Homo sapiens: one gene and its partners. The protein of the gene in region 1 purifies or fractionates together with the protein of each later gene. This does not show direct contact. Each region holds a gene or a part of one and is shown in the gene's direction. Other genes may lie near its edges.

Evidence for each region.
Region 2: the proteins of PADI6 (region 1) and CAMKK1 purify together in Homo sapiens (affinity purification with mass spectrometry; one large-scale study listed by BioGRID and IntAct). This does not show direct contact.
Region 3: the proteins of PADI6 (region 1) and NLRP7 purify together in Homo sapiens (co-immunoprecipitation; one study listed by IntAct). This does not show direct contact.
Region 4: the proteins of PADI6 (region 1) and KLHL28 purify together in Homo sapiens (affinity purification with mass spectrometry; one large-scale study listed by BioGRID and IntAct). This does not show direct contact.

The regions. Positions count from the first base shown.
Region 1 is NC_000001.11:17,369,892-17,375,844, forward strand, and holds the start of PADI6 (inactive protein-arginine deiminase type-6), read left to right. Parts: upstream 1-2,304; 5' UTR 2,305-2,354; coding exon 2,355-2,470; intron 2,471-3,164; coding exon 3,165-3,342; intron 3,343-5,535; coding exon 5,536-5,608; intron 5,609-5,953. UniProt on the Homo sapiens protein: Structural constituent of cytoplasmic lattices, which plays a key role in early embryonic development. Cytoplasmic lattices consist in fibrous structures found in the cytoplasm of oocytes and preimplantation embryos.
Region 2 is NC_000017.11:3,867,460-3,872,672, reverse strand, and holds part of CAMKK1 (calcium/calmodulin-dependent protein kinase kinase 1), read left to right. Parts: intron 1-45; coding exon 46-119; intron 120-2,784; coding exon 2,785-2,872; intron 2,873-3,057; coding exon 3,058-3,186; intron 3,187-5,213. UniProt on the Homo sapiens protein: Calcium/calmodulin-dependent protein kinase that belongs to a proposed calcium-triggered signaling cascade involved in a number of cellular processes. Phosphorylates CAMK1, CAMK1D, CAMK1G and CAMK4. Involved in regulating cell apoptosis.
Region 3 is NC_000019.10:54,944,224-54,950,177, reverse strand, and holds the start of NLRP7 (NACHT, LRR and PYD domains-containing protein 7), read left to right. Parts: upstream 1-2,647; 5' UTR 2,648-2,709; intron 2,710-5,954. UniProt on the Homo sapiens protein: Inhibits CASP1/caspase-1-dependent IL1B secretion.
Region 4 is NC_000014.9:44,929,914-44,935,126, reverse strand, and holds part of KLHL28 (kelch-like protein 28), read left to right. Parts: intron 1-568; coding exon 569-1,012; intron 1,013-3,585; coding exon 3,586-3,794; intron 3,795-5,213.

The DNA.
Region 1 (5,953 bases):
GCTGAGTGCTTCCTGCCTGCTTAATTTTGCCACTTTCAATCCAACCAGAGGGGCATTTTGGGTCTTGCTGACCAACCCCCTGCCTCCAAGAGCAACTAAAACAGAGACATCCTTGAGAGTTGTGTTGAGTGCTTAAAACCTCCAGGGAGGGAATTTTTTACTGCAACTTGCAAATTTAGCCAGCCTGGCTGACCGAACAGGCTTCACTCAGTACCTCATCTCCACCTCCTATGCTGGGTACACCTGGGTGCATATTAGAGCAAAGGCTGAAAACAAATGTTTATATTACAGTACAACCCTATGTAAAATACACAGCTGTACAAAGGGGTAAGGCTGCTTTTTACGTACTGATACAAAGAACTTCTCTCCAGTATAACTATGAAGTGAAAGAGGCAAGGTATGGAATACTGGGTGGCACATACTACCGTTTATATAAGAAGACAGTAGTAGGAGGAGAGAAGAAAAGAGCAAAAGCGCCCCGGACATAGTAGGTGTTCAGCAATTCTAGTGGAGCAAATGACTAAATGACCTCCTTGTCCTTCCTCAAAAAAGATAACCCAATGGGCTTCCAGGGGCATCTCCACTGAACTGAAAAGTTTGTAATTGTAACCAAGCAGCTTAACTTTGAGCACATTTTACAACTTTTCTCTTTAGTCTCGAGATGTAACCTCGAAGGAACCTGCAGAAGCCTTTTTCCCTTAACCTTAAAATAGACTCCACGTCCTTCCCTTTCTCACCATAAAGCCCCTTCAAATTTATCTAACTGTATGCTAGTATTGGAGGAGGAAGAGAAGAAGAAAAGGATACACACACATATTTACTTGGTCATGCATAACATTTATTTGGAAAGACATATAAGAAACGGGTAACACTGTCACTACCTCCACCTGCAGGTGGGTAAGGCACAGGGCAGGAGGGAGACTCTGAACTTGGAATCATGTGACTGTGGTACCTATTCAGGAGTAAGCATGACCCAGCCTGGGCAACATAACAAGACCCCATCTCTGCGGAAAAATGTAAAACCATTAGCTGGGCATGGTGGTGCACATCTGTAGTCCCAGCTGCTCAGGAGGCTGAGGTGGGAAGACCACTTGAGCCTGGGAGGTCAAGGCTGTGAACCATGATCACGCCACTTCACTCCAGCCTGGGTAACGGAGTGAGACCCTGTCTCAAAAACAACAACAAAAAAAAACTCAACCCAAGCTTAAGACATGAAATGAACACAATTTTAAAGTCAGTTATGTAAGTTCCTTGTGCCAGAGAAGGGTTCCTATTTCTTTGCTCTGTGGGCTCCGCTGAGATGAGTAGCAGCTGATGACCCTGGCTTGATGTATTCATTCCACTAACACTTGCTGTGCCCCCACCCCCACCGACACAGCTGTAAGCAAAGAGCTCACCTTAATCACTGGGGGTTGGGATGCAGGTTCCTGGACCACACCCTAGACCTTCTGGGCCCAGGAATTTGCAATGTTAACAAGCACCCTTGATAATTTTTGAAACCACCAGAGGGTTAATAACCACCTAGTCTAGGCAGGCGCTGTGGCTCACGCCTGTAATCCCAGCACTTTGGCAGGTCGAGATAGGAGGATTTCTGGGATCAAGAAGTTCGAGACTAGCCTGGGCAACATGGCAAAACCCGGTCTCTACAAAAAATACAAAAATCAGCTGGACATGGTGGTGCACACCTGTAGTCCCAGCTACTTGGGAGGCTGAGATGGATCACTGGAGCCAGGTAGGTTGAGGCTGCAGTGAGCTATGATTGCGCCACTGCACTCTAGCATGGGTAGAGACCCTGTCTCAAAAACAAAACCAAACCACCAGTCCAGCACTTTGCCGAGCTCCTTCGTCAATTTCCAGGAGACACACACCCTAGAACTGAGACCCCAGAGCCTGGGCATGCTGCCACACATTGCCATCCTGACTGCTACCATCAACTCCTCCCAACTGCCCTCTGCAGGTATTTGCCCCGACAGCTTCCAGCTGAGTCCTCCAGCAACATGGCCAAGTTGATCACTCCAAGGCACCGACTTCCCAGAGCCCCTCCTCTTCCCAGCTGAAGGCCACAGATGCCTAAGCAACCGGCCTCAGACTCCCCTGGCCTGCAGCTCTGCAGGCACGAGGTGCCTGATAAATTGGTGATGAAGGGGTTCTGATGCCACCTGCTCCCCAGACTATCAGCCACCAGGAAGCTCTTAGAGGGAAAATCAGTGACACCTGGGCAGCTGCTGACCCCTCCCCTTCTTAACAAGGGGGTGGCCTGCACAGGCCTGGACTGTATAACAGGGAAGGGCAGGGTGAGCCCTGGGGCGTCTGAGGCTGCTGTGCTGAGTGAGGGCTGCGGTGCAGGCCTGAGGATGGTCAGCGTGGAGGGCCGAGCCATGTCCTTCCAGAGTATCATCCACCTGTCCCTGGACAGCCCTGTCCATGCCGTTTGTGTGTTGGGCACAGAAATCTGCTTGGATCTCAGCGGGTGAGATGCTGGGAGCTCTGCCAGAGGTGGCAGGCAGACAGGCAGGCAGGCCTGGGACCCAGTCCCCTTGATCTGGGAGTTGGGGGTTACTTCTCTAGCCTCACTATCCTGCCCCATCTTGGGAAGCCTTGGGTCTCTAGTGGGGGGCCTCCCAGTTCCAACCACGCAGAATTCTGACTTAAATCCTGCCTCTGCCCTGTAGCAGCTGCCATGGACTCTTAGTGAGGCAAGGGCCTTGGCCTCTCTGTTCCCCTATCTGTGAAACCATGGGGACGCTGGCCTCGGGGGGCTGTGAGGAGCAGGCCAGGGAGACTGCTAGATGCTGGAGCCTGCAGGTGGAGGTGACTCAGCAGGGTCACAGTACAACTTCCTGAGTCGCTTGCCCTGATCTTTTTCTTTATGGGGATCCTTTGTGGCTCCCCCCTTCTTGGGAATTGGGTGCTTATTACTAAGATGTAGCTGTGGTAACTTCTGCAGTGTCGGTAGCGGGATGGGGTTTGGGCTGGAGCCCGTCGGAGAGCAAACACAGGGGTCCTTTGGGAGGGGGTGGGTAGGAATAAGGACCCCAGACCACTCTGCCTCAACACCCTAAGGAGAATGAGGATTCGGGAGCCGTCCCCTCCCCCATGCCAGTCATCTCCTAGGCTGAGAAGGTGTTTGTGCCCTGACGCGTGTCTCTTACCGGGCAAACCAGGTGTGCCCCCCAGAAGTGCCAGTGCTTCACCATCCATGGCTCTGGGAGGGTCTTGATCGATGTGGCCAACACGGTGATTTCTGAGAAGGAGGACGCCACCATCTGGTGGCCCCTGTCTGATCCCACGTACGCCACAGTGAAGATGACATCGCCCAGCCCTTCCGTGGATGCGGATAAGGTAAGCCTCAGGGGAAGAGGTGAGGGGCATCTCCCGGGGTGGGACCTAGCACAGCCACTGGGGCTTCCTCCTGGCTGCAGACGTGACTCGAGCCTGGGAAACACGTTGTTTTGCACGTCTGATCTCATCCAGTGTCTGCAACAGACCAGTGGTGTGGGCACTCCATGACCCCATTTTACAAAGAAACAGAGGCACCTAGCGAAGGTGCCCTGCCAAGTCAGCAACCAGCAGGACTGGGATTTATTTTTTATTTTCATTTATTTATTATTATTTTTTTTTTTGAGTCTCACGCTCATTGCCCAGACTGGGGTGCAATGGCACAATCTCAGCTCACTGCAACCTCCACTTCCCGGGTTCAAGCAATTCTCCTGCCTCAGCTTCCCGAGTAGCTGGGACTACAGGCACCCACCACCATGCCCGGCTAATTTTGTATTTTTAGTATGAGACAGGGTTTCACTATGTTGGCCAGGCTGGTCTCAAACTCCTGACTTCAAGTGATCTACCTGCCTCCACCTCCCAAAGTGCTGGGATTACAGGCATGAGCCACCACACCTGGCCTACCATCACTTTACATATGAGGAAACTAAGGCACAGAGTGCTGTGTCTAAACCTAAGTAGCCTACCTAGAGTGGGATAGACCCAGGATTTGAGCTTGAGCCCAAGGGTGTATTCTCCCCTGGGTAAGCTGTCTCCCTAATGGGGTGCCTATGTTGGGGAGGTTCTCCTGTGGTAGAAGCAGGTGGCTCATTCAGGGCAGGAGTGTTCAACCTTGGTTGCAGGTGAGAACCACTGGGGAGCTAATAACATCAATACCCAGGCCACACCCCCTCTACCAATTAAACCTGAGGTACCAATGGAACCTCAGGGCTAGGATCCTGGCCGCTGGTTTAAAGCTCTCCAGGTGCACCCAGTGCGGGGCTGGGGGTGAGAACCATGATGGAGCAGTTCAGGACTGGGAGAGCTCTCCCTCCCTCCCCCCACACCCTACAGGACCTACTGGAGATGTCTGCTGCAGAGGGGTAGGTACACACACCCACCTGCGCTGTGTGCCCAGGGCAGGCAACTCCCTGAGAGGCAAGTAGTGGACTTAGGTAGGAACTGAGTGTCTCTGGCCAGGTGTGGTGGCTCATGCCTGTAATCCCAGCACTTTGGAAGGCTGAGATGGGCAGATCACCTGAGGTCGGGAGTTTGAGACCAGCCTGGCCAACATGGTGAAACGCTGTCTCTACTAAAAATACAAAAATTAGCCAGGTGTGGTGGCAGGTGCCTGTAATCTCAGGTTCTCAGGAGGCTGAGGCTGGAGAATCGCTTGAACCCAGGAGGTGGAGGTTGTAGTAAGCTGAGATTGTCCCACTGCATTACAGCCTGGGCAACAAGAACAAAACTCCATCGCAAAAAAAGGTATCTCAGATAAGAATGGAGGCCACGGTGGGTGCCAGTGGAACTCCAGACTACCTGAGAACCATTCTCTGCCCAGGGCTCGGCCTCCAGGACCCTCAGGAGTGGCCAACAAAGAACCTTGAACTTAGAGGACTAAAGCTTCTATTTAAGGATGGGGTGGATCTGTCACATGCTCTGGCCAATGGTTGGGTCTCTGGTTCATGACCAAGACCTTGTGGTCAGGGTCAGTGGCTGGAGGGCAGGTCTCTTTCTAAAAGCATAAAGTAGAGGCTGGTGTGGGACACAGTCCCACAGTTGGGACTGAGTCCCAACGCTGCTTCTTCACCTGGGTGTCCTTCTTAGTGAGCAGCTTAAGCCACCAGAGGCCTGTTTCCCCACCGTGCACCTTATGGAGTAGGACATGGGACCCCAGGAGAGTGGGTTTAGCAGGGAGGATGTATAGTGTGGTTTCAAGCTTGGGCTCTAGAGCCAGGCAGCCTGTTTCTTAAATCCCTTTGGGATAAGTCCCTTGATCACCCCGCCATCAGGGATACAGCTCTCACGTGGACAGGTGGTTTCAAGCCTGGCTCTCGACAAGGTTAGGGTTGGGGGTCATGGCAGGTTCTAAGTCCTTAGGGGACTGACTCAGCCCTAAGCGCAGGGCTGTGGCCCCATACCAGCTCATAGGTGAGACTTCAGAAGCCATAACACAAGACCAAGATCCCACGCCTAGACTCGGCACATGGCCTGGGGCTCTGTTCCTGGCACCTCCCGTCCAACACTGCCTATGGTTTCGGGATGCTGTCTCCACAGGTCTCGGTCACATACTATGGGCCCAACGAGGATGCCCCCGTGGGCACAGCTGTGCTGTACCTCACTGGCATTGGTGAGTGTTGCTCCAACTGGGAGCCTGGGGCCCAACTCACCGCTGGGGTTGGGGAAGGGGTGGGATTGTAGGAGGAGCCAAAAAAGATTCTCCAGGTAACAAGATGCCTCCTGTGGGCCCCAGGAACTCCTGAACAAACTCCTAAATGGATTCATTTGAGATACCCACTCACACACTCCCTCCTCGACGCTCAGTCACTTCTCCATCTTCGTGCACTGCCAACCTAATTCTGAGAATAGAAACAGCCAGAACTTCCGTGTCGCTGCCATCTACCCACCTACGCCTGTCTAGTGCCTACCTTCTTCCTTTGTTACTAATTGACGCATCTGGTCCAAAGTTAGTCTT
Region 2 (5,213 bases), on another chromosome or scaffold:
CGAGGCCCTGGACCCACATCCTTTGTCTGCCTCTCCACCCCACAGTGCCCATTCATCGACGATTTCATCCTGGCCCTCCACAGGAAGATCAAGAATGAGCCCGTGGTGTTTCCTGAGGAGTGAGTTGTCCACCCAGGGGAACAAGGGGGCTACCACCCGCTCCTGGTGTCTGAGTTTTAGCAGAGCTTTTGCCCTCTGAGGACCCCACCCCAGCCTGCAGATATGAAGGTGGCGGTGCTGTTCCCTGGGAGGGACCCCTGAATAGATGGACGGGAGGGACTCTGGAGCCAAGGGTCTCCGCAACGTCACTGTGTGGATGGGAACCCTGAGATCCAGGGTTGGCCAGGGATGACCACAGGCATCATTCACACCACTCCTTCACCGCAGGCCTGCCTGGGGTCAGTGGCGCCAGCCCCACCCAGCCCCTGGACTCAAGGGGAACTTCTCCTTCCCCCACTCAGGGTCAGGGAACTTCAAGATGCCAGTGCGTGCTCCCCATTTCACAGATGGAAAAGAGGATGCTCTGGAGGAGAGCGGTCAGGGGGCTGGGACTCAAGCCACTCTTCCTCCCCACTCTTCCCATTGTGACCGAGGTCTCTGAGCGTAGCAGGGACGTCGGGGAGGCCTCTTGCTCATGCATGGTTCGCCTCATGACGGCCACCGTGGCAGCCACAGCCTGAGCTCCCAGGCTCCTCTTTTCAGCAGTGGATTTCAGGAGTGAAATGGAGGCCGGGTGCGGTGGCTCACGCCTGTAATCCCAGCACTTTGGGAGGCTGAGGTGGGCAGATCACCTGAGGTTAGGAGTTAGAGACCAGCCTGGCCAACATGGTGAAACCCCATCTCTACTAAAAATACAAAAATTAGCCAGGCGTGGTGGCGCACATCTGTAGTCCCAGCTACTCGGGAGGCTGAAGCACGAGAATTGCTTGAACCCAGGAGGCAGAGGTTGCAGTGAGCCTGGGCGACAGAGCAAGACTCTGTCTCAAAAAAAAAAAACAGAAGAAAGAAACTGAATAAGGCCGGGTGCGGCGGCTCACACCTGTAATTCCAGCACTTTGGGAGGCCAAGGAGGGCGGATCACGAGGTCAGGAGATCGAGACCATCCTGGCTAACACGGTGAAACCCCATCTCTACTAAAAATAGAAAAAAAATTAGCCGGGCGTGGTGGCGGGTGCCTGTAGTCCCAGCTACTCGAGAGGCTGAGGCAGGAGAACGGCGTGAACCCGGGAGGCAGAGGTTTCAGTGAGCTGAGACCGTGCTACTGCACTCCAGCCTGGGCGACAGAGCGAGACTCTGTCTCAAAAAAAAAAAAAAAAAAAAAAAAACAAAAAAAAAAAAACAAAAAACAACAAACAAAAAAAGAAAATGAAACGGGACTTGTACTCAGCGACTCCTGCTCTCTTCTGCTTATTTCCTGTGTGGTCCCCAAGCCCTGCTGAGCCCTCCTCTTCCCTGTCTCTGGGCCTTGTTGCCACTTATACCCCTTGCCTCATTCAGGCCTCAGGCCCCTCCCCAGACTTATCTAGCCACCTTCCCCCTGGTCTCGCTGCTGCTGGCCTCCCTCCAGTCCAGCCAACACATTCAGGCGGGGACAGCCCTGATAAAGCACAACAAATCTGCCTGCATCTCTTGCCTGAAGTTTGTCTGAAGCTTCTCAAAGCCACACCCTGGCGCTAGCATTCACACGTCTCCGGGTTCTGCCACCCGCTCGTCTGGGGCCGCCTCACTCCCTTTCCCGAGCACCAGCCAGCTGGCTTCTGTCCATTTCCTCCTCATCCTGTGGTTGCCTTCCCTCCCTGCCTCCACAGTTGTACCCCTGGTGCCTCTCTTCCTGCTATACCCCCTGCTGAGGGGTGTCTTTCCCCTCAGCCCAGGAATTTTAAAAGGGATGAAGCATCTAAGACAACAGGGGGAACCGAAGTCAACAGTCCTGAGAGTGGCTTTCTGCTCCCTAGTCTTGGAAGGATGGGCTCCCCAAGACCACTGGTGGCAAAGAAACCTGGGGTTTGGCCGGGCGTGGTGGCTCACGCCTGTAATCCCAGCACTTTGGGAGGCCAAGGCAGGCGGATCATGAGATCAGGAGATCGAGATCATCCTGGCTAACACGGTGAAACCCCGTCTCTACTAAAAATACAAAAAATTAGCCGGGCACGGTGGCGGGCACCTGTAGTCCCAGCTACTCGGGAGGCTGAGGCAGGAGAATGGCATGAACCTGGGAGGCGGAGCTTGCAGTGAGCCGAGATTGCGCCACTGCACTCCAGCCTGGGCCACAGAGCGAGACTCCATCTCAAAAAAAAAAAAGAACCCTGGGGTTTGGGCAGAGAGAGTTGGAGCTGATGTGGCGCTGAGGGGGCTGCTCCCTCCCATCTGAGTCTCCCATCTCTGCCTGCACTCTTCTGGCTGGCACTGTGCCAGCCTGCTAACCTCCCTGGGCCTCAGTTTCCTCCTCTGTCAAATGAGAGAGGATCTTCTCTGGGTGTAGAAAAGGACGAGGTGGTGAGTGGGTCTGAAGGCCTCTGGTGTCCCATAAAGCGACTCTCCTCACCATCTTTGCCACCCATTGGGGTGTCCAGCACCCATGGAACTCTGTCTGTGCCTCTGTCCTGGAGGGAGACTTGACCTCCTGCTCAGGAAAGGCTCTCCAAGCCCTTGTTGTGAAATTCCTGCCTGCTGTCCGGAACTCAGTCTTCCCATCCGAGGGACGAAGGTTTCGGGAAGAGAGGTGGACAGGAAGGGGTCCTCATCAGCGGTCCCACCCTCCTCTCCTTCCTTCGCCCTCTCCAGGCCAGAAATCAGCGAGGAGCTCAAGGACCTGATCCTGAAGATGTTAGACAAGAATCCCGAGACGAGAATTGGGGTGCCAGACATCAAGGTCGGGGAACTGGGGGTCTTGGGCTGGGCTGGGACACAGAAAACAGGAGTCACTTTCCCTTTCTGGAGGGATCAACACCAGGATGCATGTGTGTTGGGTTTGAGTCTGTGGACTTTGGACCCCTCCAGGTGATTCTGGTAATGGCCTGACCTCTCCCCCTCTCCCTGCCCTCCCGGCCCCGACAGTTGCACCCTTGGGTGACCAAGAACGGGGAGGAGCCCCTTCCTTCGGAGGAGGAGCACTGCAGCGTGGTGGAGGTGACAGAGGAGGAGGTTAAGAACTCAGTCAGGCTCATCCCCAGCTGGACCACGGTGGTAAGAGAGCCGGGGTAGATGCTCCCTTGTCCTGGAGGGCCTGGGGGACCTGAGCCTTGCTCTGTGCCTGGCTCCTTGGGGGGACAGAGGCCTGCCTGGCCAGCCAGCTGTGATCCTGGGCCACTGGAGCCGCCATTCTGCTGGAGGCCCATGGAGAGGGAGGTCTTGTGGTCGGGAGACCAGGAGGCTTGGTGAGGAGAGTGACTGATTTAAAGAAATAGCGGGCGTGGGGCCGGGCGCGGTGGCTCACGCCTGTAATCCCAGCACTTTGGGAGGCCAAGGCGGGCAGATCACGAGGTCAGGAGATCGAGACCATCCTTGAAACCCCGACTCTACTAAAAATATAGAAAATTAGCTGGGCGTGGTGGCGGGCGCGTGTAGTCCCAGCTACTCGGGAGGCTGAGGCAGGAGAATGGTGTGAACCCGGGAGGTGGAGTTTGCCGTGAGCCGAGATCGCGCCACTGCACTCCAGCCTGGGCCACAGAGCGAGACTGCGTCTCAAAAAAAAAAAAAGAAGAAAAGAAAAGAAAGAAATACCGGGCGCGGTGGCTCACGCCTGGAATCCCAGCACTTTGGGAGGCCGAGGCGGGTGGATCACGAGGTCAGGAGATCGAGACCATCCTGGCTAATACGGCGAAACCCCACCTCTACTAAAAATACAAAAAAATTAGCCGGGCGCAGTGGTGGGCACCTGTAGTCCCAGCTACTGGGGAGGCCGAGGCAGGAGAATCGCTTGAACCTGGGAGGTGGAGGTTGTAGTGAGCCAAGATCACGCCATTGCACTCCAGCCTGGTTGACAGAACGAGACTCCATCTCAAAAAAAAAAAGAAAGAAATAGATGGCCCTTGCTCAGCGGCAGCAGTCACCGTGACTGGAAGAAGCATTTCATTCCGTCCAGACAGTTACTGAGCTTCCGTTCTCCAGGCACTGCACAAGGTGCCGAGGACAAGGCAGGGGAACGGCCTGGGCAGCCTTTGGATTGGAGGAGTGGCCCCAAAGCCCACGTATCAGTTAGGCGGCGCCTGCGTCTCCCCCAGAGCCCACGTATCAGTTAGGCAGCACCTGTGTCTCCCCCAGAGCCCACATATCAGTTAGATGGGCCTGCGTCTCCCCCAGCGCCCGCGTATCAATCAGGCAGTGCCTGCGTCTCCCCCAGATCCTGTGTATCAGTTAGACGGTGCCTGCATCTCCCCCGTGCCCACGTATCAGTTAGACGGCGCCTGCTTCTCCCCCAGAGCCCACGTATCAGTTAGACGGCGCCTGCTTCTCCCCCAGAGCCCACGTATCAGTTAGACGGCGCCTGCTTCTCCCCCAGAGCCCACGTATCAGTTAGACGGCGCCTGCTTCTCCCCCAGAGCCCACGTATCAGTTAGACGGCGCCTGCTTCTCCCCCAGAGCCCACGTATCAGTTAGACTGCGCCTGCTTCTCCCCCAGATCCTGTGTATCAGTTAGACGGCGCCTGCTTCTCCCCCAGAGCCCGCGTATCAGTTAGACGGTGCCTGCATCTCCCCCAGATCCTGCGTATCCATTAGACAGTGCCTGTGTCTCCCCTAGTGCCCGCTCACATTTCGGTTTTGCTCCTCTTCCTCTGCTCAGCTTCTGTGTTGGCACTTGGAAGTGATTCACATAGTCCCCCGTGGCCACCTGGGGCCACTGAGAGCCCTGCCCTGCCCCTGCCTGACAGTCAAGTGAGTCAGGGCAAGCACAAGGCCAGGAGGAGAGCCAGGGCCACTGCCGTTGGCGGGGCCTGGCCTTGCACTTTATCCCCCTCTGCAGGGTCCCGGCCCAGCTGGGACCAGCTGGCTCAATCCCTGCCCCCTATGCTTACTTGACTCTGTGGGGTCGCTGGAACCAGGCAACTCCCACGGGGTCCCCATGACCACTTGCCTGATCTTAGCCACCATCTCCTCTCTCTCAGACCACTGGAACAACCTCCCACGCTGTCCCTTGCTTCTACTCTCACTCCCTGTCCCCCTGGTCAATGCTCAACTCAGCACCCAGCATGGTCCCAGTGGCATGAGTGTGT
Region 3 (5,954 bases), on another chromosome or scaffold:
CAGTCCTGGCACACGAATGCACCCGGGTTCACCAACCAGGAAGCTCTTCTGAACTCTTTCCTGGTTTTTTTTTTTTTTGAGACAGTCTAACTCCGTCACCCAGGCTGGAGTGCAGTGGCGCTATCTCAGCTCACTGCAGCCTCTGTCTCCTGCGTTCAAGTGATTCTCATGCCTCAGCCTCCTGAGTAGCTGGGTCTACAGGTGCACTCCACCACGCCTGGCTAATTTTTTATTTTTTGTAGAGCCAGGGTCTTGCTATTTTGTCCAGACTGGCCTAGAATTCTTGGGCTCAAGCAATCCTCCCATCTAGGCCTCCCAAAGCGTTGGGATTACGGGCATGAGCCACAGGACACCCGGCCCAAACCCTTTTCTTTTGGGGTTTATGGAGGATTCCTTAGGTGGGCAATGCTGATCACATAGCTGGCAGTTCATAATCAATTCAACCTTCAGCCCCTCTCCCCTCCCTGGAGGCCACTTGGAGCCTGGGGCTGAAAGTTCCCAATGTCTAATCACTGACGGTTTCTTTGGCAGCCAGTCCCTCGCACTTGTGGGGTTATCTAGGGGCTTTCCAAAAGTCACCTCATTTACATAAACTCAGGTGTGGTTGCAGGGCCTGGGTATGTATAACAAGAGATACCTCTTTCATGTTTATCTCTCCATAGCTGCTCTAGGACTAAAGGCCAAATGTTTTAACAAAATATACTCTCTCTCTCTTTTTGTCAGCTAGAATATAATTTATTTTTATTGTTTTTATTTTCTTTTTCTTCAGAGAGGGAGTCTCGCCATATTGCCCAGGCTGGTCTTGAACTCCTGGACTCAGGCAGTCCTCCCGCCTCAGCCTCCCAAAGTGCTGGGATTACATTCATGAACCACTGCGCCTGGCCATCTTTTTTTTTTTTTTTTAAAGATGGAGTCTCTGTCGCCCAGGCTGGAGCGCAGTGGTGCAATCTCGGCTCACGGCAACCTCCAACTCCCAGGTTCAATCAATTCTTACGCCTCAGCCTCCTGAGTAGCTGGGATTACAGGTGCACACCACCATGCCTGGCTAATTCTTTATTTTTAGTAGCCAGGGGTTTTTTGCCATGTTGCCCAGGTTGGTCTCGAACTGCTGACCTCAGATGATCCACCTGCCTCAGCCTTCCAAAGTGCAGGGATTACAGGTGTGAGCCACCATGCCAGGCCTCCATAGTGCCTATTTCTATAGATGGCATGCTGCAACTGATATATACATCTTCATTTGTGGGACCATTTGCTTCCATTAAATTAACAGTTTAAACTACCAAAATTCTGTGCTGAATGCTTTCCACAACATACACTGTTTTATTTAAAAACAATTTTAGGCCAGGTGCGGTGGCTCATGCCTGTAATCACCTGACATCAGGAGTTTGAGACCAGCCTGACCAATATGGTGAAACCCTGTCTCTACTAAAAATACAAAAAATTAGTTGGGCATGGTGGCATGTGCCTGCAGTCCCAGCTACTTGGGAAGCTGAGGCATCAGAATTGCTTGAACCTGGAAGGCAGAGGTTGCAAGAATGGAGATTGCACCACTGCACTCCAGCCTGGGCCACAGAGCAAGACTCCATCCAAAAAAAAAAATTAAATATCAGTTATCTATTTATTTTTTTGAGACTGGGTCTCACTCTGTGGCCTAGGCTGGAGTGAGATGGCCAGTCACAGCTCACTGCAGCCTCAAACTCCTGAGCTCAGGTGATCCTCCCACCTCAGCCTCCTGAATAGCTGGGATTACAGGTGCAGCCCATCATGTATGGCTAATTTTTTTGTTTTTGTTTTTGAGACAGTCTTGCTCTTGTCACCCAGGCTGGAGTGCAATGGCGTGATCGTGCCTCACTCACCCTCCACCTCCCTAGTTCAAGTGATTGTCCTGTCTCAGCCTCCCGAGTAGCTGGGATTACAGGCACCTGCCACCACACCTGGCTAATTTTTTGTATGTTTAGTAGAGACAGAGTTTCACCACGTTGGCCAGTCTGGTCTCCAACTCCTGACCTCAGGTGATCCACCCGCCTCGGCTTCCCAAATTGCTGGGACTACAGGCATGAGCTACCACGCCCAGCCTATGCATGGCTAATTATTAAATATTTTTGAAGAGATGGCATCTTGCTATGTTGCCTAGGCTGGTATCAAACTCCTGGCCCCTAGGGATCCACTGGCCTAGGCCTCTCAGCCTGCTGGGATTTATAGGCAGGAGGCACCACAGTTGGCCACAAAGTAGACTTATTGTATTTGTAACTTAGGAAGTCACGGGAGTTTTTGTCCTCTTTTTTTTTAATTTTTATTTATTTTTGTTTAATTTTTTTTCTCTACAAGAGTTTTTAAAGCTGGGAGCCAGGTACCCTGCAAAACCCAAAATGTGTATTTCCTGTTCTGTCGCCTATCACACCTGGCCCGGGTGGTCTAGGAAGGGAATTGCACATTAATCTCACCTGGGGAGATTCAGCAAGCCGTAATTCTCCAAAGCCCACTGAAGCCCAATTACAGCCAAATCCCTGAGGATGGGGCCCAGGTGATGTCAAGGTGAGCCTGAGGTCAGTGGTTGGGAGCCACCCAATGTTAATCTCAGTGGGGCGGTTCCACCCTGGGCGGGAAAGCTGTCTCTCCACCTAGCGTACCAAGGGCCAGAGACCTCCCCTTTTTATCCGTTTCCTTTGCAGGAAACACAGGCTGGAAGCAAGACCTGACCTGAGGGAGGTGAGTGCTGGTTCTTGCATCGATTTCTTTGTCTTCTCGTTTAAGGGAGAAGAAGCTATTGGTTGAGTTTCCACCATAGCCCTTCCCAAGCCTTAATGGTTGGTGCGAGGATGCTGGAAGGATCTTTGATTTTTTTTTTTTTGAGACGGAGTCTCCCTCTGTCGCCCAGGCTGGAGTGCAGTGGCGTGATCTTGGTTCGCTGCAAACTCCGCCTCCTGGGTTCACCCGCCATTCTCCTGCCTCAGCCTCCTGAGTAGCTGGGACTACAGGCACGTGCCACCATGCCCAGCTAATTTTTGTATTTTTAGTAGAGACGGGGTCTCACCATGTTGGCCAGGCTGGTCTTGAACTCCTGACTTTAGGTAATCTGTCTGCCTCGGCCTCCCAAAGTGCTGGGATTCCAGGTGTGAGCCACCACGCCTGGCCTAATGTCTTAAGGACTTCTATTCAAATATAGTTTAGAGGAGTTCAGGAGATTGAGACTAGCCTGGGCAACATGGTAAAACTCTGTCATTACAAAAAAATATAAGGCCAGGCACAGTGGTTCATGCCTGTTATCCCAACACTTTGGGAGGCCGAGGCGGGTGGATCACTTGAGGCCAGAAGTTTGAGACCAGCCTGCCCAAAATGGTGAAACCCTGTCTCTACTAAAAACACAAAAATTAGCCAGGTGTGGTGGTGCATGCCTGTAATCCCAGTTACTTGGAAGGTTGAGGCAGGAGAATAGCTTAAACCTAGGAGGGGGAGGTTGCAATGAGCTGAGATCGCGCCACTGCACTCCAGCCTGGGAGACAGAGTGCGACTCCGTCTCAAAAAACAAAGAAGGCCAGACCTTGTGCTGTGTCCAAGCTACTTGTGGGGTGAGGTGGGAGGATCACCTGAGCCAGGAGGTGGGGGCTGCAATGAGGTGTGATTGAGCCACTGCACTCCAGCCTGGATGAGATGAAGACCCTGTTTAAAAAAAAAAAAAAGTAGGCTGGGCGCGGTGGCTCACGCCTGTAATCCCAGCACTTTCAGATCACCTGAGGCCGGGAGTTTGAGACCAGCCTGACCAACATGGAGAAACCCCATCTCTACTAAAAATACAAAATTAGCTGGGCGTGGTGGCACATGCCTGTAATCCCAGCTACTCGGGAGGCTGAGGCAGGAGAATCACTTGAACCCGGGAGGCGGAGGTTGCGGTGAGCTGAGATTGCGCCACTGCACTCCAGCCTGGGCAACCAGAGTGAAATGCTGCATCAAAAAAAAAAAAAAATGTAAATGGCCAGATGCGGTGGCTCACGCCTGTGATCCCAGCACTTTGGGAGGCCGAGGCGGGTGGATCAGCTGAGGTCAGGAGTTCGAGGCCAGCCTGGCCAACATAGAGAAACCCTGTCTCGGCCGGGCGCGGTGGCTCACGCCTGTAATCCCAGCACTATGGGAGGCCGAGGCGGGCGGATCACGAGGTCAGAAGATCGAGACCATCCTGGCTAACACGGTGAAACCCCATCTCTACTAAAAATACAAAAAAAATTAGCTGGGCATAGTGGCGGGCGCCTGTAGTCCCAGCTACTTGGGAGGCTGAGGCAGGAGAATGGCGTGAACCTGGGAGGCGGAGCTTGCAGTGAGCCCAGATCGCGCCACTGCACTCCAGCCTGGGTGACAGAGCAAGACTCCATCTCAGAAAAAAACAAGAAACCCTGTCTCTACTAAAAATACAAAAACTAGCCCGGCGTGATGCGGTGCGCCTGTAATCCCAGCTTCTTGAGAGGCTGAGGCACTAGAATCACTTGAACCTGGGAGGTGGAGGTTGCAGTGAGTCGAGATTGTGCCACTGCACTCCAGCCTGGGCAACAGAGGGAGACTCCATCTCAAAAAAAAGAAAAAAAGAAAAAAATGTACTTGGGAAAAAAAATACTTGGCCAGGCCTGGTGGCTCATACCTGTAATCCCAGCACTTTGGGAGGCTGAGGTGGGCAGATCACCTGAGGTCAGGAGTTCAAGACCAGCCTGGCCAACATGGTGAAACCCCGTTTGTACTAAAAATACAAAAAAAATTAGGTGTGGTGGGGCATACCTGTAATCCCAGCTACTTGGGAGGCCGAGGCAGGAGAATCGCTTGAACCCGGGAAGAGGAGGTTGTGGTAAGCCTCGCACCATTGCACTCCAGCCTGGGCGACAGAGCAAGACTTTCTGAAAAAGAAAAAAAAAACCCTGAATTTTTCTTTTCTTTTCTTTTTTTTTTTTTTTTTGAGAGGGAGTCTCACTCGCCCAGGCTGGAGTGCAGTGGCGCGATCTTGGCTCACTGCAAGCTCCGCCTCCCAGGTTCAAGCCATTCTCCTGCCTCAGCCTCCCAAGTAGCTGGGACTACAGGCGCCCGCCACCATGCCCGGCTAATTTTTTTTTTGTATTTTTAGTAGAGACGGGGTTTCACCGTGTTAGCCAGGATGGTCTTGAGCTCCTCACCTTGTGATCTGCCCGCCTCGGCCTCCCATAGTGCTGGGATTACAGGCGTGAGCCACCGTGCCTGGCCAAAAAACCCTGAATTTTTCTAAGTACATCAAGCGTTGTCACTGCAAAAACGAAAGGCAACTATATGAAGCAGTGGATATGTTAATTAGCTGGATTGTGGTAATCATTTCACTGTATATATAACATCGCTCCATGCTGTACACTTTGACAAGTAAACGTTGTATATATTACTTTAAAAATACTTAAAAAATAGAGACAAGGTCTCCTTGTGTCGCCCAGGCTGGTCTGGAACTCCTGGGCTCTCATGCTCTTCCTGCTCCATCCTAAAATAGGATATATGTAATTATACCTCACTGAAGGGGTGGCCTGCCCCTCCACACCTGTGGGTGTTTCTTGTCAGGTGGGACGAGAGACTGAGAAAAGAAAGAGACACAGAGACAAAGTACACAGAAAGAAAAGTGGGCTCAGGAGACCCGCGCCGGCCGGGTCTCTGAGTTCCTTCAGTATTTATTGGTCATTATCTCTACCATCTCGGAGACGGGGATGTGGCAGGACAATAGGGTAACAGTGGGGAGAGGGTCAGCAGGAAAACATGTGAGCAAATGTCTGTGTCATAAACAAGGTTAGGAAATGTGCTGTGCCTTGATGTGCTCATACATAAACATATCTGGTGCATTAAAGAGCAGTATTGCTGCCAGCATGTGTCACCTCCAGCCCTAAGGCGGTTTTCCCCTATCTCGGTGGATGGAACATACCATCGGGTTTTACACCGAGACATTCCATTGCCCAGGGACG
Region 4 (5,213 bases), on another chromosome or scaffold:
TTTTATATGATATGGCACAATTTATCCATTTTATAGTGGATAAACATTTGGATTGTTTCCACTTTGGAGCTGTTACAAATAATACTGTAGTAAACACTCTTGGACATATATGTATGCATGCCTTTTTCATCAGTAGAGTTGCTCAGACAGGACACATAAAGTACACTTTAACCATTCTTTTGGTGGATGATTGTGTTGTGCTTCTGTGAACATTTGTGTATATTTATCTAGATGCAAAATTATAATAGACATTCAGAAGAGTAGATATATAGGAATGTAATTACTGAGTCAGGACACATGTATCTTCAACTTTTTTAGATAATGTAAAATTGTTTTCCAGAGTAATTTATACAAGTTTACACTCTCACCAACGGAGTATGCATTTCTTGCTACACATTCTTGCCAACAATTATTATCTGACTTTATATTTTTTGCCACTTTGGAAGGTGTGTCATGGTTTATTGTGCTTTTAATTTTTGTGTCCCTGATTACTAATAAGATTAAACATATCTGTCTTTATGGGCCACTTTGGTTTTTAAATTTTATATTTTTTCTGCTTATTCTTTAGTGTGGAGATGTACTTTCCTCAGAATGACTCTTGGATTGGTTTGGCACCCCTAAACATTCCTCGCTATGAATTTGGAATATGCGTTTTAGACCAAAAAGTATATGTTATAGGTGGTATTGCAACTAATGTGCGTCCTGGCGTCACTATCAGAAAACATGAAAATTCAGTGGAATGCTGGAATCCTGATACAAATACTTGGACTTCTCTAGAGAGAATGAATGAAAGCCGAAGTACTCTTGGAGTAGTAGTACTTGCAGGAGAACTTTATGCCTTAGGTGGTTATGATGGACAATCTTATTTACAATCTGTAGAGAAGTACATTCCCAAAATAAGAAAATGGCAACCTGTGGCACCAATGACGACAACAAGAAGTTGTTTTGCTGCAGCGGTATTGGATGGAATGATATATGCCATTGGTGGGTATGGTCCTGCCCACATGAACAGGTATTTAACTTAATAATTAAATTGCATATGTTTATGGATTTTTAAAAGTCTCATTAGCAATGATTTCTGAGTTTTAAACAATTTGTGTGTATGAATGAACTTCCGGCATTTGGGAAACTTAATCTGCTCCATGGATATAATTGTAATTGTTTTACATGGGAATTTAATACAAACCTAACAATCAAATCCCTCTCATTAAATTTTACATTCATTCACTATAAATGGACTAGATTTTAAAACTCAGAAACCTAAAAATAAGATGAAGTTAGACAACTTTAGATTTTGTGTGGTGTGTACATCTATGTGCACAGTATGTAAATTATCTTTTATTGTATTGCTTAATAGAATAAAGAAGTAGAAATTTAATTCCTGTGTGTCTATACAATATTATAGCACATCATAAACTTAAAACCTTATTTAAATATTCCTTTCTGAATTCTTTCCTGTAATCATACATGTATCATCAGGTATTTGACTTGTGCTGGAGTTTGAATTTGTGATATCTGTATTCTGTAGTTTTATCTGAATAAAGGAGAAATATATATGAGAAAATAAAAGTATGAAGTAACTAGTTATATGAGAAATTAATCGTAATTCTGAACCTTTATTGAAAATTGATGTTCCAAAGGTTTTATCTTTGGCCAGGTGTGGTGGTTCACGCCTGTAATCCTAATACTTTGGGAGGCTGACGTGGGAGGATTGCTTGAGCCCAGGAGGTTGAGGCTGCAGTGAGCCTTGAATGCACTACTACACTCCAGCCTGAGCAACAGAGTGAGACCCTGTCTCAAAAAAAAAAAAAAAGAAAGAAAGAAAAGAAAAGATTGTATCTTTAATAGTAATTAGAGTGGTTTGTGTTATTTTGATTGTGAGTATTTTAATGACAGGGCATACAGTCAGCCCTCCATATCCACGGGTTCTACATCCACAGATCCATCCAACTGTGGATCAAAAATATTTGAAAAAATTTACAATAATAAAAAACAAAATAATACAGTATAACAGCTATTTGCATAGTATTATAAGTAATCTAGAGATGATTTAAAGTATACAAGAGGATACGTGTAGCTTATATGCAAATATTATACTGTTTTATATAAGGAACTTGAGCATCTGCAAATTTTGGTATCCTTGGGATGGGGTGGATCCTGGAACCAATCCTCTACAAATACTGAGGTTTGTTGACTGAGAAAGTGATGGCACAACAGCATTTCATCTGTAAATTTTTACTTCTATTGAAGCCAAAGTATTCCTCCTTTTATTTATTTATATTTTTTGCCCTTAGTTGAAGGAAAAATATGGGACATAGACATGCATTTCTATTCTTTGAAAAGCTTCTGCCCAAAATTTGTAAGATAAAAGGTTAAGTATTTTAAATTTGATTATCTTGAAAGTCTTGCTGCAGTGCATCAACTCTTCTTCAATGATTTTGGTCTAATGGATTCTATCCTGGAGTTCTTTCAGAAACATTACCCAGTCTCTATTATGAACTCCAGAATGGTGTCACAGCCTGTTAAATGCTTATGGTTTTTTCAGGAAATAGGTTAGGGCCAGAACAAGCCCAACAATCTTACCTCTGTGCCTTTGTGCACCTTCAGAGGAAACCATAGTCTTAAACAGCTGCTAGAATTTTCTAGGGAAGCCTTTTTGAAAATTCTGATTTAATTTGGATTCCATAATGCAGCTTAGAAATGCCACACGTTCTCTGAAACACAGTCTTGACTCAAATTCCTGAGTACTCCTAAATCACCCTGAGATAATTATGATCAGCCAGTTTGTACTATGCAATCTACAGTGATTGCTTTGCAGTAAGCCACATGAATTCTCCTGTGACGAAAAAAAATAAAGGTTTTTCTCCCCACCCCCCACCCCTCTCTTCCTCTTCTTTTCCCCTTAACTGTATAGAAGATCCTAAAAACCTCTGTATTCAAGCCAGGCATGGGGGCATGTACCTTTAGTCCTAGCTACTCAGGAGGCTGAGGCAGAAAGATCACTTTAGCCCCGGAATTTGAGGCTGCAGTGAGCTCTGATCTTGTCACTGCACTCCAGCCTAGGTGACAGAGCGAGACCTGCCTCAAAAATAAATAAATAAAATTTAGGAACAAAAAAAAAAAGTCTGTATTCAGTTAGTGGTTTTCAAAGTCACGTGCATACTCATTTGACTTTATTCTTATATGAATCCCTTCAGGTTGCACTATCCTCATTTTTGCAGGTGAGAGGAAATGACTTATTCAGGATTACACAAATCCACAGCAGTAGGGTTAAGGTTCGTTCAGCCCTAGGTATACAGAATTAGTACTTGAACCCAGGTCTTCTGACTCCAAGTTCTATGCTCTTAATATACTTTGCCGCTTGCACAATATAATGGAATAGCATATGGAATTGCACCTTGTTTACAAGGTAAGCTTTTATCTTTGCAATCTTATCAGCAAAACCTAAGCATTTGTGGCAGACTACTCTTGTTTAATATCTCTCTATTATGTGAACTTTTAAAGCTGTAGTGGGTTTTAGTTTTGCTTTGACAGGAAGAATGACACAAAAGATCTGTAAATTAAATTTTTTTTAAATATTTGCAGTGTGGAGCGTTATGATCCAAGTAAGGACTCCTGGGAGATGGTTGCATCCATGGCAGATAAAAGGATTCACTTTGGCGTGGGTGTCATGCTAGGCTTTATTTTTGTGGTGGGTGGACATAATGGAGTCTCACATTTGTCCAGCATTGAAAGATACGATCCTCATCAAAATCAGTGGACTGTGTGTAGACCAATGAAAGAACCTAGAACAGGTAATAAGAATTTATTAATTTCTAAACATGTAAGGCAATGTTTTCTATAATGATGTGCTTGCAATAATAGTTCCTTGGAATATAGCAGTAGGAATATTACTTGTCCAGAAAAAAAAAAAAAAAGACTTGTATGTGGTAAACTTGAAAGACAATTAGCTAGACAAAAGTATATAGATTTCTTTATTGTGACTTTTATATGCCAATGTGCATATTATTGTTTCTCAAACTTGCTGAATACATTTTGGGAAATGCTTATACTAGAGTGTGTATTTATAGAAGCTCCTTTTGTCCATGTAACAAATGTCATCTTTTCATATGTTACATACATACAATCCTCGGATTGTTCTGTTTTGTTTTCTATTGTATATCAGTAATCTGTATGTTCACTTTCAAATGTTCTTTCTTCCCCAGGGGGTATAGTTGATCAAAAAGGGTTGTATTTCAGAGTTCGTAGAAACAAAACAAATCCACTTTTGTGGTTTAGGAAAAATTGTTATCTTTGAACTCAAACTCATCACATCATTTTAAGGGAAAGGTTTTAAGATACTGACAGAAATGCTTTAGGGAGCACTCCTCATACAGATTGAATATTTCCTATCCAAAATGCTTAGGACCAGAAGTGTTTCAGGTTTTGGATTTGGGATTTTGGAATATTTGAATTATGCTTACCAGGTTGATCATGCCAAGTTCAAAAATCTAAAGTGTGAAATGCTTAAGTGAACACTTTCTTTGAGCATCATATGGTGCTCAAAAAGTTTCAGATGTTGGGCCAGGCACGGTGTGGCTCACACCTGTAATCCTAGCACTTTGGGAGGCCGAAGTGGGAGGATCACTTGAGGTCAGGAGTTCAAGACCAGCCTGGGCAACATGTTGAAACCCCATCTCTACTAAAAATGAAAAATTAGCCTGGTGCGGTGGCACATGCCTGTAGTGTCAGCTACTCGGGAGGCTGAGGCATGAGAATCGCTAGAACCGAGATCGCGCCACTGCACTCTAGCCTGGGAGACAGAGCAAGACTCCATCTCAAAAAAAAAAGTTTCAAATGTTGGAGCACTTTGGATTTCATATTTTTTGGGTATTGGATGTTCAACCTATATTTATGATTAAAGAACCTTTTGAAACAAACATGCAAGAGAAACTGAAAAGACAAGCTGAAATGAACTGTTTTAGTGTTTACTATAATTTGTTTCTTTTGTATCCTTGAGAGGGAAAGCCACAGAAACAATGAGAACTTTAAAAATTGGAGTAAACTGTTTCTTTTTAGAACTATATAAGATAATATCTAAAGTAGAATTTTTAGAAGCATAAATTATGTCATTTAATATATTTTAAATATTTCAATGTATTTGAAAACCTCATAAAATGATTTTTCTAGAATGAAATGAAATTAAAAAAAAATAGCCTATGGAAAGATATATA